Homo sapiens: one gene and its partner. The protein of the gene in region 1 interacts with the protein of each later gene in a pairwise test. Each region holds a gene or a part of one and is shown in the gene's direction. Other genes may lie near its edges.

Region 1 (3,917 bases):
TGCTGAGAGGGAGGTTTAGGAAGAAGGGGCTGGCATTATGACTGAGGTGTGAAATAGTCTTTTGGGCCAGGTGCAGTGCCTTATGCCTGTAATCCCAGCAATTTGGGAGGCCAAGGTGGGAGGATCACTTGAGCCCAGGAGTTTGAGGCTGCAGTAAGCTATGATCACACCACTGCACTCCAGCCTTGGTGACAGAGCAAGACCCTGTCTCTATTAAAAACAACAAGAAAGGGAAATAGTCCCTTGGGGGAGAGATTTAGGATTGTCAGTAGCCCTGAGGGCTCGCTTAGGGTCCGTTATCAGCCAGGGTCCAGTCAAAAGACAACACATTATAGTTTTTAACTGAGAGAATTTAATATAAAGGATTGTTAACTAGGTATAAAGATGTGTTTAGGTAACTGTCGGGGTATAATACTAACAGTAGCAACTGCAGGAAGTAGCTACCACTGGTAGGTGGTATTATTAAAATGTAGATGCTTGAGGAGGGGCACAGGGAGGTGAAACTCAGACATCTGAGGAGAGGGTGCTGCTCTGCTAGGGCTGGTGTCTCTGAGGAGAAAACGAGGCTGGTTCTGCAAATGTTGGAATAAGTGCAGACTGGATTCCACTGCTGCTTCCAGAATGTTCCAACTGCCACCTCCAGGATAAAGAAGCAAGAGTGGATGACACCAGACAGGACAGGAGCAAGCAGGAAGCAAAGCCCCCTATTGATAGAGCCAAACCGGGATCAGCTGGAAAGCAGAAGTGTTTGCAGAGGCCCAGCCTGATCATTATAGAGCCAAGAACAGCAGCTGGCTTTGGAGCTTGGTCAACCGGCTTGAGGCCTGAGTTGAAAGCTAGACCCATCAGCACAGTCTCTTCTGGTGATTGGACTTTTGCTAGGTGAGTACACTGAAGCCAGGTAAAGGGAGTGGAGAGTGTGTGTGCCACTGAGTGATTTACAATTCAGGATCCTGGAATATAATTCCGTGAGGACGCAGCGGGTGACTGGGTGCAAAGTAGCCCAGTTCAAGGGACCTGTGGGCCTGGGGATGAGGACCTTTGCTTCTCCACATGCGGTCCATGGACTCGCAGCATCAGCATCGTCTGAGAGCTTGTGAGAAATGCAGAATTTCAGGCCACTGAGACCGCTGGAATTGGAATCTGCATTTTCCAGATCTCCTGGTGGTCCTCAACTACTTACTGGTTTGGGATGGGAAACTAGAAGGCTTGGGCTGGGAAACTAGGGAGTGGTGATCAGCGAGGGGGCGGCCTGGCTACAGCAAAAAGGACAGGCACTGGGAGACAGCCCCTGGGCATGAGCTTCCAAGCTGGGGCTTTTTGAGGAAGCCATAGTGGTCTGGCATTGGGACCTCTGAACGAAATTTCCCGGTGGCTACAAGGAATTTTCCCACTTCCCCAAATTAGTAGATTCGATTTCCATCCCACTAGCTGGTAATTTACAGTATAGTGAATTTCCTTATTTCTTTTTTCTTCCCAAGACTTTCAAAAAGTAAAGCCAACCCCTTTATTTATCTTTGGGCTCGTCCAGTCTGGCTTCCCCCCTCCGATCGTTCGCAGTGGGACAGCCCGCCGGGCCTCCTTCCTTCCCCAGAAACCCTCCAGGCCTGGGAGAGGACGCGTTTTGCATTCAGGAAAAACCAATCGCTCCCCTATCGTACATAACCAAGAGAAAAGGTGGCGGACGAGGGGCGTGGCAAAGTGATTAGTGCGGCCTGGACCCTGCGTGCCTTGCGCGCTGCGGGCTCTTTGCGTCTGCGTAGTTCGCTCACCTCCCTTTCTAACTCCGCTGCCGCCATGGCTCCTGTGGTTAGTATGGCTCCGCGTGAGGCCTCGGCTCCAGGGGAGGCACGTGGGCCTCGCCGAGCCCGGCATCTACCCAGGCTCGCTGGGGACGGCGCCCTGCAGCGTCCTGCTGGGGTGGGCTGGCAGGTCGGCCGGAGCGGGCCAGAGCCCCTGCCGATCCCAGCACGTTGTAGGCGGAGGAGGCCGCGGCCCGAGGCTCGTGAGGGAGATCCGGGAGGTCTCGGAGGCCCGGGGCCCCAGCTAGGGGCTAGCGGGGAGCTGGAGCCTGGAGACTGCGGTCTGGGCCGGCCACTGGTCCTCGGACCCCGGCCGGGGGCCTGATTACCTGGGTGGAGGGCGGGGAAGAAGAACGGGACCTGCTACCCTGGGGAGCCGCGCATTCGGAAGTCCACGGCCAAGACTCGGGGACGAATCCGCGGAAGGGCGGCTTGGTCGGCGTGCTTTCGGAGAGGAGGCCTGGGTTTGAGGAGCTTTTTAGCGTCCCCAGAGGAAATTAGTTTATCAGGGCGCACTGTACAGACCCAAACGGGTGTTGCAGTGGTGTAGGGAGAAGGCTCTCATTGCATTCTCCTTTAGCTATGCTGGGACTGGGCTGTGCGGCGCCCTCCTCCTAGGTTATTTGAGAAAGTTGTTTTTCCGTGTTCTTCGTCCCAAGATCCTACTTTTCCTCTTTTGTTGGGACTCCCTGGTTAACATTTCCGGTTCTTCTGCTCTTTCTGTCTGGTTGGGCTTTTGAATGCCTTTTGGTTTAAAACCTTGATGGAGAAGTATCAAGCCCGTTGTGGGTAGGTCTCTTGATTGATTGTGTGTGTTCGGAATAGATCTTAAAGTACCCCTCTTAGATTATTACTGCGAAGAGACGTTGTAAAAAATAAATCAGTGATTTTTGTAGTGGCCAAATGTTTGAAAAGTTGATCCAGTTAACACAAGTTTTAGATGAAGTTCTTTTAAACATGAAGGGAGGTAAGATGTGTTTTTGGAAAAGTCTATTTAGTTCTGCAGAGCTTTTAAACGTGAAAGTACAGGTTGGTACGATGCACAAGTGCATTAATGGTGTCAAGTTTGTAGAGAGATAAGATTAACACAAGCTTCTTCGTAAGAGTGAAGAAACTGGAACCTTGTAGGATGTGCTTTGCCGGGTGGTTTGGAAGTACTAATGCATAGATGAAGCGAATCAAAATGTCAGAAGTTCTTGACGGTAGTGTTGTAATAAGATTCTAGGTTTTAGCCTTAACCTTGTCCAAGCTGGAGTGGACAGGCACCTAGAATACTTTGCAACTCCCTTCATGAGAAGGTGGATGAGACAGGATTAAGGGAGATGAGCTAAGACGGATCAGGACCCTACTCTGAACATGTAGGACAAGGATTGATTTCATATGAAAATTGTGGGTATGCAAGGCATTTTGTATGCCTGCACTCTAATTTTGGAAAAATAGTATTTTTTTGAAATTGGGAATGTTAGGGCAAACAAAAGGAAGTGTTCATTTTATTGTGGTTCATAAACTAAGAGACCTTCATGCCTGTAGAGATTGGGGAGACTGGAAAGTTTGAGTGAGTCAAGAGTGCTAGAATGATTTCCCCATCAAAAGGGCATGACCCCAGGCCCCAAGCTTGTACAGCAGCATCTGCCCCATTATACCTCTGGCACTCAGGCAGTGATGCCTCTTGGCCCTCTGGCAAAGGGAGCACACTTCCGTTAGTTTTGTATTTGTATGGACTTTTATACCTATGACGTTTCTGGTTCTGTTAATCTTGTTTTTCCGACTGACTGAAACTTCATCTCTGTTATCATTTGTGTATTTTCTTAGAAAAAGCTTGTGGTGAAGGGGGGCAAAAAAAAGAAGCAAGTTCTGAAGTTCACTCTTGATTGCACCCACCCTGTAGAAGATGGAATCATGGATGCTGCCAATTTTGTAAGTTACATCCTTATTGCCACTCGGGTGGTCACGAACATTTTGAGATACTGTTGAGAAAACCTACTGGGGTACATTTCTGTTTTCAGGCTTATAGGCAGCTTCACAGGTCTGGCTGTATCATCTCACCCTGGGAATGTGGGCAGATTACTTGTTTGTTTCCAAGTCTTGTTTCTTCTTGTGTGTGCAACAGTTGTG
Region 2 (3,917 bases), on another chromosome or scaffold:
TTCCCCCCAAATTTTAGTGGGATGTTTGTTTTTTAGAAATTCATTTGTAGTTCTGGATATATTCTGGATTCCATTCATTTGTTGCCAGATAAATATGTATATATGTGTGTAAGTAATATATATTTTATATATAACCTATACTATATACTACATAATGTATAATCTACAAACATGATTTGGTTTTTCACCTCTTAATAGTGTCTTTGAGGAACAGAACTTTTCCATTTAATTATGTCTAATTAAACAATTCATTCTTTATGGTTAGTGCTTGTTTATCCTCATTAAAAACATCTTTGCCTATACTATAGTTGTGAAGACAGTATCTTAAGTGTTTACTAGATTGTCTATCCATCTTTAATAAAGTTTTGTGGAGTGGGAAGAAGTAAGAGTCAAGGTTTGTATTTTCCCTGCATTTATCAAGTGCATTTATTAAAAGCACTGTCTTTTCCACAATGATTTACAACTCTTCTGTATTTTGTATTTCCAGATTGTTTCTGGCCTCTGTGTCCTCTTCCCTTGGTGTATTTGCCTGTCATTGCTCCAGTACCACACTGTTTTAATTACTCTACCTTTATAGTAAATTTCATATATAGTAGTGCGTATCTACTAACTTAGTTCTTTTTCTTTAAAAAAAACTTTGTATTTTCCTTGGCTTAAAAAAAACTTGGCTTTTCCAAATCTTTAATTTGCATATACTTAAAAAATGATCTGCTTGTGAATTTTCAGAAAAACTTTTGTTAACATGGTGGAATTTTAAATATGATTGCTAGGATCATTCTGAGAGACTTGACAATAATGTCTTTTAATAATGTCTTTTAATAATGTCTTCCAGCCAGGCATGGTGGCTCACGCCTGTAATCCCAGCACTGTGGGAGGCCGAGGTGGGCAGATCACTTGCAGCCAGGAGTTTGAGACCAGTGTGGCTAACATAGTGAAACCCCGTCTCTACTAAAAATACAAAAATTAGCCAGGCGTTGTGGCAGGCGCCTGTAATCTCAGCTACTCGGGAGGCTGAGGCAGGAGAATTGCTTGAACTCAGGAGGTGGAGGTTGCAGTGAGCAGAGACTGTGCCACTCTACTCCAGCCTGGGCGACAGAGGGAGGCTCCGACTCAAAAAAAAAAATGATGTCTTCCATTGCATGGAAAGAATATTTTTCTCCATTTACTGCAGTCTTGAATTTCTCTGAGTGATGTTTTATAATTTTTGTGTAGTGCTGTACCACATCTTGATTAAATTTATTCCTAAATATTTGATGTTTTTGGTACTGTTTTTAATGACATTTGAAATCTCATATTCTAATTATTTGTTGCTATTAATTATACAGAAATGCCATTGGTTTTCATTATATCTAGTAAGTTGACTAAATTTGCTTATTAACTGTAATGATTTTATTCTTCTGCATTTTTCTATGTACAGAACAATGTCATCTGTGAATGACAGTTTTATTTCTTTCCAAATTTTAAACCTATTGTATTTTCCTGATGCTACAGCACTTTTTAGAACCTCCAATAGATTGTTGAATGGATAGTGGACATCTTTGTCTTGTTTTCAAACTCAGGGAGAAAATACTGATACGTCACTATGAAGTATGGCATTTAAAAATTTTTTGTACATATGCTAACCAGAATAGGAAACTTGCCCTTTTTCCTAAGTTGGTGATAGTTTTTATCACGAATGGACTTTAAACATTGACCATGTATGAAAATGATCATGTGGTGTTTCCCTGTTTGTTGCTGTTGTTGTTGTTGTTAATGTGGTGCATTACATTTATCGATTATCAAATGTTAAATCAATGTTGCCTTTCTGCAATATACTCCACCATGATGTATGTCCTTTTTAAGTACTATTGCATTTTATTTGCTCACCCTTAGTTTGGAATTTTTGTGTCTAAGTTCAGGGGTGATATTGGCTTGTATTTTTGGCTTGATCTTGTAGTTTTTCATTCTTCTAAATTCCTTGTCAGATGTTGTTATCAGTTTTGTATCAATCTTCTAATAAGAGTTCCTAATAAGGGTTAATACAGATTGGTTTATACATCTATTTGAATATATAAGTATAAATACTTATATATTAAATACATATTTTGCATAATATAATGTATAATATATAGTTTAAAATATAATGTTTAACAAGGGTTAATACAGATTGGTTTATACAGCTATTTTTCCTAATAAGGGTTAATACAGATTGGCTTATACATCTTCAAATAGGTAATAATATTTTTATCTATTTTTGGTTGATGACAGCTGCTTATTCCACAAGCATTCTGATTGATTTGGTTATACCATCTTTCTTCTGTTTTACTTTGTGTACATTAAAATTAGGTTTCTTTTCCTGAGAACAGAGTGTTTGTTGAGACTTGGTAAATCTTGGCTCATGATTAAAAGTGAAATTAATGATTCAAAGTCTTGGTTGTATACACATATGCAGATTGCTTGCCATTTTGTGATTGTTAGATTTTTGTCATGAATAGAATATATTCATTGATGTTTTTCAGGAAACAATGACCGATAAAACAGAGAAGGTGGCTGTAGATCCTGAAACTGTGTTTAAACGTCCCAGGGAATGTGACAGTCCTTCGTATCAGAAAAGGCAGAGGATGGCCCTGTTGGCAAGGAAACAAGGAGCAGGAGACAGCCTTATTGCAGGCTCTGCCATGTCCAAAGCAAAGAGTAAGTAAGCCTGTCCTCACGTCCTCCTCATGCTCCTGCCTCATCCCCTCCAGAGAAACTGTCCTTGTCAAGGTTAACAGTTTCGGCTGACATTGCCATTAACTTCTCAGCAGCATTTGACAGTTGTTCACTCGCTTCTTCATGAAAACCTTCTAGGATTTCCATTTCCGACAATCTTTTTTTTTTTTAATTTCTTGTCCGTATTGGTGAATCCCTATCATTTTTTTCTTGAGATGGACTTTCGCTCTTCTCAGCCAGGCTGGAGTGCAGTGGCGCGATCTCGGCTCACTGAAATCTCCGTCTCCTGGGTTCAAGTGATTCTTCTGCCGCAGCCTCCCGAGTAGCGGGATTACAAGCACCAGCCACCACACCCAGCTAATTTTTGTAAGTTTAGTAGAGATGGGGTTTCGCCATGTCGGCCAGGCTGGTCTGGAACTCCCCCCCTCAGGTGATCCACCCACCTCAGCCTCCCAAAGTGCTGGGATTACACGCACGAGCCACCGCCCCCGACCCCATCATTGTTTTTTTCTACATTTCTTTTTCTTCTCTTCTCTAAATACTGCAAAAAATTCCTGAACCCCAGCATCTCTCTCTCTCCTTCTATTCCACTCTGCCACGATCAATCACTGAGCTCCTGAGATACCTCCATGTTTCCCATTATTTCCCGCATCAAACACATACCCTCCAACCCTGCAGCCGGGTCATGATGTTGGCATGTAAATCACGTGATGCCATGTCGCTCCTGAACACCCATCCTCAACACTCCTAAGCACTCAGAACCGACTGCGAAGCAGCTTTGGTCTGTGAGGTTCTGCGTGGCCTGGCCTCCGTCACCCTCTCCTCACACGGGCCCCATCATCTCCTGACTCTCTCTGCTACTGTCCTTCACCCCGTAGTGCCCGGTCCATCCCCACTCCAGCCCATATCCTTGGCCTCACCGCAACCTGGAACTCCCCCTCTGCCTCTGCGCAGGCAGCTCTGCTTTCTCCTTCAAGCCCTGCCCAAGGGTACCTCCACAGAAGGCTCTGCCCAACCAGCAGCAGCTCCTGGGGCTCCCTCTGCTGCTGTTGCCCACAGGCCTGTGGACTGCTTCCTTACCACTAGCCCAACACTGTATGTTTCATTTGCTCATTGTGCACGTACTGTCTGACCGCCCCATGAGGATGTGAGCTCCAGAAGGGCAGGGAACGTTGCTCTCTGGGCTGTTTACTGCTGATCCCCAGCTACCGGCACGCTGCCTGCCA

What was found.
Region 2: the proteins of RPL22 (region 1) and CT45A1 interact in binary tests that used the Homo sapiens proteins (3 or more experiments, as listed by UniProt).

What each region holds. Positions count from the first base shown.
Region 1 is NC_000001.11:6,197,454-6,201,370, reverse strand, and holds the start of RPL22 (large ribosomal subunit protein eL22), read left to right. Parts: upstream 1-1,775; 5' UTR 1,776-1,797; coding exon 1,798-1,809; intron 1,810-3,614; coding exon 3,615-3,719; intron 3,720-3,917.
Region 2 is NC_000023.11:135,716,437-135,720,353, forward strand, and holds part of CT45A1 (cancer/testis antigen family 45 member A1), read left to right. Parts: intron 1-2,498; 5' UTR 2,499-2,504; coding exon 2,505-2,673; intron 2,674-3,917.